Linked DNA regions of Homo sapiens: region 1 is linked to region 2. The links come from fine-mapping of genetic effects on gene expression. Tissue or cell type: esophagus mucosa. Region 2 holds a variant in brackets; the other region holds the start of a gene. All regions are shown on one strand. Distances are between the middles of the regions.

What was found. PIP is the estimated chance that this variant, and not a neighbour inherited with it, causes the effect.
Region 1: it holds the start of TPRG1, and the variant in region 2 is the best candidate, but not a certain one, in a credible set for the expression of TPRG1 in esophagus mucosa (GTEx, PIP 0.64).

What each region holds. Positions count from the first base shown.
Region 1 is chr3:189,169,967-189,174,366 of GRCh38, reverse strand. It overlaps TPRG1 (tumor protein p63 regulated 1), which reads right to left and starts at 2,396. Exons shown (of 6, transcript NM_198485.4): 1 at 2,236-2,396.
Region 2 is chr3:189,203,074-189,207,473 of GRCh38, reverse strand. It overlaps TPRG1 (tumor protein p63 regulated 1), which reads right to left. Exons shown (of 6, transcript NM_198485.4): 2 at 1-98. The coding sequence starts at 89. Among named protein-coding and RNA genes, the nearest start is that of TPRG1, 33 kb to the right of the region's middle. The variant T/C (reference allele first, on the strand shown) is at 2,383.

The sequences.
Region 1 (4,400 bases), 33 kb after region 2:
GGATGTGGGTCCATTATTATCAGATCTCCTGATCTTCCTGAAAACAAGATATCTGGATTTTTTACAGGAAATTTCCTAGATATCAAATACTTTGGAACTAGTTTTATCTTGTTTAACATGGCAGCACAAACAAAGCACATCTGCATGCTGGATTCACCTGTGGCTGCTGCTCTGCAAGCTCTGGAGTAAATGAATTCTCGGACTTGACGCTGCCATTAGATTAAACAATGTTGAGTAAAATATCAACTATCACTTCAAGTTTTAAAAGGATCAAACTGAGTGGCACTTATTTAGGAAGATCCCAGAAAATATAAAAATCCAGACAGGCTGAAGAAAATGAAGATGCCACCACCTCTTGCCCATCTCCCCATCTTATACCTAAGGAGCAGCTCCAACATTTGGCCGAAGCAAATATTCCAGAAGAACCAAGTCAATAAAGAGAGAGGCTTCTCTGACAGATTTCCCTGCTCTAAAGGGCATGATACCATCTCCAGTAGATGCTAAGCAAAGGTCAAAGTGCCCTAAAACTCTTAATTGGAAGAAATCTTAAAGGACATCTAGTTACAGTCTCCAAAATGACATGGCTAATGCTTCTGCTTGGGACTCCTAGCACCATTCACTACATATTGTGGGCAATGAAAGAGTAAGAGACCCATATGTGACTTGCAGCTCCAATGATACTGGCTGTGTGACTTGTGCATATCACTTCATCTTTCTGGGCCTCAGTTTCTCTGTTTTGAATAAAGTAATCAATTAAACGATTTCTTCAGGATCCTTACAGCCAGAAAGACACCAAGAATATATAGAAGTTCCAGCCTGACCAACATGGTGAAACCCCGTCTCTACTAAAAATACAAAAACTAGCCAGGTGTGGTGGTGCATGCCTGTAATCCCAGCTACTCAGGAGGCTGAGGCAGGAGAATCGCTTGAACCCGGGAGGTGGAGGCTGCAGTGAGCCGAGATCGCGCCACTACCCTCCAGCCTGGGCAACAGAGCAAGGCTCTGTCTCAAAAAAAAAAAAAAAGAAGAAGAAAAGAAAGAAAAAGAATATATAGAAGTCTGCCAAAGATTATATAGCATTACAACCCAATGCATTTGTGGTGGCCCCAAGGGATGACTATCAGTACTGTCATAATAAACTCAAACAGACACACACACACATACACACATGCACACACACACAGAGGAAACATTTCCTTCCACAACTAAGAATGATATAACCTTTTGAGCATGAAAAGAAAAATGATAGCTAAAATTAGCATCTTAAAAAGTAAACTACATAATAACTGAAGATGAGATTTCCTTAAAACTGTAGAACAATGAGATACTATGATAGCTGTCACAAGAGAGGAAATTGCATGAGTGTATTTGAAAGGATTTGGGGGTGTTTTTCCCCCATTGAGATTTGCTTTTCTACATACCACAGTGTGACTGAAAAGCTAAAATATTTCCCCAGGGCCTGTATGATCTGTGCCTCACTACGCTGCCTCTGACATTTGGAGAGTGTCATTTAGCCCCGAATTAAAACCTGCTTATACAGAGATCTGGAGGATGTCTCAGGCGCCAAGTAGTCATCGCTGTCTCATTTGCCTATCACCTTTCAGTTTACAACTCCCCTTTACATACATGCCCTCGTTTGTTCTCTAAAAACAGCCCTGTTTGATGGGACCTATATATTATTATGAAATTTCCCTCAGATGAATTCAAAAATAACCCTCTCAAACTGCCTGCAAAGAAATAATCACCTTTTGTTTGCCATTTAACGGTTCAGAAAGGCTTTTCACTTCTTTTGGCTTTTGGGGATAAGGTATGACCTGCTGGGTTCTATAATAGAGGAAGAGGGAAGAAGGAATCAAATCTAATCTTGGCCTTAACCTGCTGATCCAATTGGAACAAATCACTTCAATTGACCAAGCTTCAGTTCACTAAGCCACCAAATGGAGAAAATTATACCCATCCTACTGCACTATAGGGCAGTTAAGATCAAAATCAATATATAGATAAGTATGTCAAGTGGCTTTATAGGCTAAAAAATGCTAGCCTACAAGCCTCATCAACCCTGGACAGTAAGGAAGAATAGGGAAATTTCACATGGTAATGCAAAACTACAAACCTAAACCAAACTGCAAGTCAGTGGGGGAGGTGACCAGAAACTCGGCTTAGGGGACAGAAGCAATTGGTTCATAGAGAAATAACCCATCTCTGCAGAACCAGTGACAAGCCACTTGATCTTACCTGACTAGGCTGGTCCTCAAGGCTCTTCTTTCTCTTTCTGCACAAAGGGGGCTAGACCACAGATAGTGGCCAGGAGAGGTGTGATTGGCTCAGATAAAGCCAGGCAAGACAGTGCCCTGTGCTGTGACCCCACTCAGTCTGAATCTCACTTCACCAAGTAGGCTGAGAGTTACACTGCCACCCTCAAATAGTCAAATGAAAGGACTGAGGATGTTTACAGGGTGGAACTCAACCCGTCAGAGGCAGAGAATTGGGTTTGTGGGTGGGGCCTTTCTTGTTCTGCAATGACACACCTTTACCTCCTGTCCTCTCCCTCAAGAAGTCCTGCATTTTTCTGCCAACTCCCTCTAATACACATCCAGCTGAGGGAGCAGGAGCAGCCTATCATCCATTCCTCCATGGCTTCTGTATGCCTCCAAGTAGTTATAATTAAGCTTAAGCCTGAGGCCTACACTCCTATCATTAATATTCTTTATGATGGCTTGATTTATTGGATATTTGTGATTTTAAGCATCACTACCACTCTTGTCAAAAATGTAGAAGACATGTAGAGCAGTGTATCTCTGAAAACAAACACATGTACACACAATCTCTGGTCAGTATTCCTATTAGGAAATGTGCCACATGATATTGTCTCTATGTAAGTGTGTATCCCCCTCCCTAGATGGGGGGCCCCTTGAGGGCAATGCTACATCTTATTCTCTCATATACTCCTCAAAACACCCAGCAGATAGTAGGTAATAAATAAATACACATTGAATTAATGATGATCCATTAATATCTATTTAGTGAATCCTGATCTGTCATTTAATGGCTTTGCAGCCTATAGCAAGTCATAATCTATCTTTCTGAGGTTTTTTAATTTTGGTCATCTGTAAGTTGAGAGTATCATTTCTCCTTCAGAAATGCAGATAGAACTTGAAAGGAAGCATATGAGAATAAACCTAGGATAAGATTTGACATAGCAACGGTGCTAAAAAAATGAAATAGAATCTTAATGAACACATTCTGAAACCTAAGCAAGTGTGTTCTACATACAGAGTTGGTATAAAATAAAGTATGAACTGCACAAGTAGGTGGATTGCTGAAAGAAAGGAGAGCACAGAAAACAAAATGCTGTTATGTGTATGATTGAATTTCAATCTTCTATCCTAAATTCTCTACTTCATTCAGCAGACTCTGGCCAAATCAGATTGTATTTGTTTGATGGCTGGAGGAACGGGTGTGCGCTGACAAAGTAAATTGGTTGAATTCCATTCTTTTAAAAGAAAAATAACTAATATTCACCCTTCAAAAAATGTTGTTTAAAGTTCCAGGAATACTGAGGTCATGAAGCGATTCCACAGGAAATGAAGTGCAAACTGGCAACTCGCCACTCAGGAGAGGTCACAATGAATAAACAGTCCTTTTACCTGCTTCCACCGTGTCGAGGACGTCATGTATACTAACTCAACAGTAGTTAACTGAGCAACTACCTTGAGCTTTCTCAGTTATCCACATAGACAAGGATATGAAAAGGAACCAAACACATTCTCTGGCATAAGGAGCTCAAGAAGATAAAATTTGTAAGTGAATTAGCATTGCACGATATAGAAGATGATGAGCACCACAGACAGGATCCTAACAAGTACTATGGTAATCCAGAGGAGGGAGCAACTCCAGGAAGGCTGCACAGCGGTGGAGGCGGCATTAGATCCGGGCTGTTAAGAAGAGCCAGGATTTCAACAAGCACAGATGGTAGAGTTGGGTATAAATGTTATTGGTGAGATGGACTCAGCCACAGTTACCTGATCAAACTGATTTATGCCCCCTCCCTAATACAGACCCCAGGCTGAAAAGAGAGTTTTACAGAACCGGTATCTAGGTCACACCACTTAGACGCCACAAAACTACAGGGCAATTAGAAATAATTGCGAGGCAAATACCGTTCCCACTCAGCTCCAAATGTCTTTATGACAGCTCAGGGTGGGGGCACAAAAGGCAGGAGGAGTGGAGACATGCTGGATCCCAGCCTGGTCTCTTAAGAGAAGGACTAAGCAATGCACTGCTGTTTGAAGTATGCTATTTTAAAGGGCAAGAAACTCTGTGAAAAGACATCAATTGTTCACACGGCATCCATCTAATTATCGTTAGGTTTCCAGCGGCCACTGAACACTCCTCCCAGC
Region 2 (4,400 bases):
GATAGGTGGTCAGTCTCAGAGGGTTGGTCATCTCCCTCTTGCTTCAGAGACACAGCCTGGAATCCTTCAAAACTCCCAATTGTTGACATTTCTTCAGCCTAAACCAAGGGCAGAAAAATCTCATTGAAAAAATGTTACCTCTGTACCTGTGTCCTAGCTATGGCAAAACAGAATATGATGAGCAAACGGAATTCCTGAAACTTAAAAACATCCTTCATGTTAACTAAACAGAGGCATTGGTGGATACAGCTTCATAACACAGACTTCTAAATACCATCCACAATCCTGCAAGGTCATTTACCAGAGAAGTGAAGGAGAGACTCTCCGGACAGAGAAAAGGAGTTTAATCCCAGGAGACAGGAACCTGAACAAGAGAAGAGCTATATAAAATAATTACCAGACAATTTCTCTTCAAAATTGCATAGCATTTTTGGTTGAAAATTCACCAGACTGCAAGCTTATTTAAGAGTTAAAAGCAATGATAATGCATTTTCTTGTGTGCTTCTTGAGTCATAATAGAGCATAAGAGCACTTAGAACTGAACATGTTTTTAACTGAAAGATTCGAATTCTAAAAATTTATTCTAAGAAAATAATTAGACGAATACCCAAAGACTCACACACACGCACATGCATACACGCGTGCACACACACACACACACACACGGTTGTTCAGCTGGGCATGGTGACTCATGCCTGTAATCCCAGCATTCTAGGAGTCTGAGGCTGGTAGATCCCTTGTGCTCAGGAGTTTGAGACCAGCCTGGGCAACATGGCGAAACCCAGTCTCTACAAAAAATACAAAAATTAGCCAGACATGGCGGAATGTGCCCATAGTCTCAGCTACTCGGTAGGCTGAGGTGGGAGGTTCACCTGAGCACAGGAAGTGGAAGTTGCAGTGAGTCAAGATCATGCCACTGCACTCCAGGCTAGGCAACAGAGCAAGACCCTGTCTCAAAAAAAAAAAAAAAAAAGTTTGTTCATCACAACACCGCATCTAATAGAAAAATATACCAGGTTATATATAAAAGAAAAACACACCACTTTATATCTCATACAACACTGTATGTAAAAACATTAGACATTCATGCAACATTGAGTCTAACACCAAAAAATAAAATAAAATAAGTATCCATCAGTAAGAAGTTGACTAAATAAAATATGTTGCACTGTAAATACAATGTTATCACTGAAAGTGTGAGTGTATATTTTATCACAGAAAAATATCCAAAATATATTATAAATGGAAAAAAGTAAGTTAAAAAATATTATAAATAATATTATTCCAATTTGTTAAAATAATTTAGAAAGAAAGAGAAGAAAGATAAAGAAGGAAAGGAAAGGAAGAAGGAAAAAAGAGAAGAAAGAAAGAAGGAAAGAAAGAAAGAAAGAAAAAGAAAGAAAGAAAAAAGAAAGAAAGACAGAAGAAAGGAAGGAAGGAAGGAAGGAAGGAAGGAAGGAAATGTACCTGCATATGTATATACAGGCACACATGTATGGTATAACAGATTTAAAAATGTCTAAAAAGAGGGCCTGAAAAGAAGTAAAATAAAATATAACAATAGTTATCTCTAGATGACAGTGTTAGAGGTGATTTTTATTTTTGTTTGCATGTCTGTGGGTGCTAGTAATGATCACACATGGTTTAAAAATAAATAAAAATAATATCTTGGTTTCTATTTTGTACATATAAAGCAAAGCAAAATAAAATAGAAGACACATGTTAGCTTAGCCTGTGCACTCAAATCCTTTCAAGCTGACAGTGAGCATGTTATCAATGCTACCTAGAAAGTTTCATGTCCATTTTCACCATGAAAGTAGGAATGCCATATTATTCTCGGAGTCACCTCCTTGTTCTTAAACAAAAGTGGTTTTTAATCAATTTCCTTGGTTCTTGTGAAACAAAAGAAGGTGAGAAGAAGCCCCTATCCCCAGCAAGCTTCCGCTTTTGAAATTGGGATTAACTAGGCTATTCACAAGAGGTAAAAATAGTATGATCATATAATTTATTAGCTAATTTTGGGATATTTTGGCATGAAAAGGGTGCTATTGACAATTATGTCAGGATGATAGGAGTGAACTGGACAGTCTCAGGCAAATGTGGCTCTATATATATGTTCACCCTGAGGATTTGAATGTAGAAAACACAGCTAAGGTAACTCACAAGTGGAAAGCCTTATGCAGTTTGCTTTATATGATTTCTTAAGCTTTATATGTTTTCTTATCCGATCTTTCCAGCAATCCTAGAAGAGCTACTTAGTCTTTCCCCATCTTTCTGAGGAACACAGAGTAGATGGGAACCACCCAGGGTCACACTTGAATAGTCGTAGCAGCAAGTGTCCTCCCAACCATGCCCCCAGTATAGCACACCCAACATCTGCCT[T/C]ATGACAGAAAAGATGTCTCTGAGCTTTTAGGTGATCTTTTAAAGTTAGGTGTGCAAAAGGTAGAAATTGGTCTCTGAGAAAACAAGGAATGAAGAAGCAGGAGAAAGAGTGTATGTGTGTGTGTGTGTGTGTGTGTGTGTGTGAGAGAGAGAGAGAGACATAGAGACAGAGACAGAGAAAGAAAGACAGACAGAGGAGGCACTCTGACCTTCCTGTCCCTGGCAGCTACATGCTGTATTTATGCAGGTCTGCCACCTTTATCACAGTGGGTGTTGGAAGGAAATGCATTTCTAAAGTTCTCTATAACCTGTGAAGGAAGGTTTGTGCCATTGGGGAAGGAAAGCCTGCTTCTGTATTTGCGCACTCTGTGAACACACGCCTAACAACAGACATCTGCGAAAGGCTCCTGTGCCTGGAAAACAGAGGGAGGATTTAATTAGCACCACTTCCTCTCCCTCAGGCTGTCTTCTCTGGAAACACTTGGGGAAGCTCTGCGCTCTGAGACCAAGCTGTTTGAGATCCAGGAAAGAAGGAAACTCTCAGCTCCGTTTAAATTCTCACTGCCATAAATAGTGGGAAAGTTGAGCCCAGCTATCCCAATCCAGAGTAATTCCAGCTCTGTTCCAGTCACAGGAACATCTTAGAAGAACAATAAACAGAACTTCCTCAGCTTCCCCAACAGGAGAAGCGTGCTGCACATCTACACATTCCACTCTATTTCTCATGACCTCTGGCCCAGTTCATTCCCAATTCAATAGTAAGTGCTCTTCTATCCCTGCATAGGCTGTATTCCGTGAAATGCTAAAGGTACATTAATACCAGTAACAGATCAAAATCAAATGTTCCATTGCTTTCACATAGATCAATCATCCCCTGCAACAAACTCATTGGGAGCCTTTTAGAACTGAAAAGATTTGCTGTTCTGTAATATTTCCCAGTAAATTTATATCTTCATTTAGAGAGTAAAGGCAGCACAATTTCATAGGAAAACAAAGGGTCAAAACTTAGAAAAAGTAAATGATGTTCAGTTTTTTTTTTTTTTTTTTTTTTTTTGAGACAGTCTCGCTCTGTCACCAGGCTGAAGTGCAGTGGCACGATCTAGGCTCACTGCATTCTCCGCCTCCTGGGTTCATGCAATTCTTCTGCCTCAGCCTCCAGAGCAGCTGGGACTACAGGTGCTTGCCACCATGCCCAGCTAATTTTTTGTATTTTTGGTAGAGACAGAGTTTCACCATGTTGGCCAGGATGGTCTTGATCTCTGGACCTCGTGATCCACCCGCCTCAGTCTCCCAAAGTCCTGGGATTATAGGCATGAGCCACCTTGCCCAGCCAATGTTCATACTTTTTCATGGAATCTTCTCATTCCAGGGAATTCATGTAATAAAAACTACCTGAAAGAAGCAAAATGCTACAATATTAATTGCTTATTCTGAGTAGTAATGAAAAATGGAAAACCAACTAAACACCTAATGTTCAAGGAATGGCTAAGTATATCCAACTGGTATTACACAGGCATTCAAAATAACACGCAAACATTGCAGTAGCACGAGATTAACAGTTGTATCTTCTTGAGTGAAATAAAGCAGGAAACCAAAAATATTTTATCTTGGAATGTTCCACTGAATAATTTCACATTGGTAAAGACTAGAAAGAAAATAGTTATATTTATTGAAGTAGTGGATTGTGCGTCAATTTTTGCTCTTTTAAAAAAATTAAATGGCAGTAGTGCTGATTTTTTTAGCATTAAAAAAAAAATCCCAAATAAAGCCTTAAGGAAGTACTACCTTGCCTTTGATTAGACAATAGAAATACTATATTTCTCAGCTGCCAGAAAATTCAGAACTAAATTTAATATAGTATTATAGTAAATAACTTATTTCCAGATCCTGGTCTAAGTATAACTGCTTCCATTTATAAGGAACTTCATCTATCTCTCTGAGAATTTTTCTAATAATATTATAGAAGCATGTAGGGCATAAATTATAGCTTAAAAGTTATTGTTTAGTTCAACTTTTTT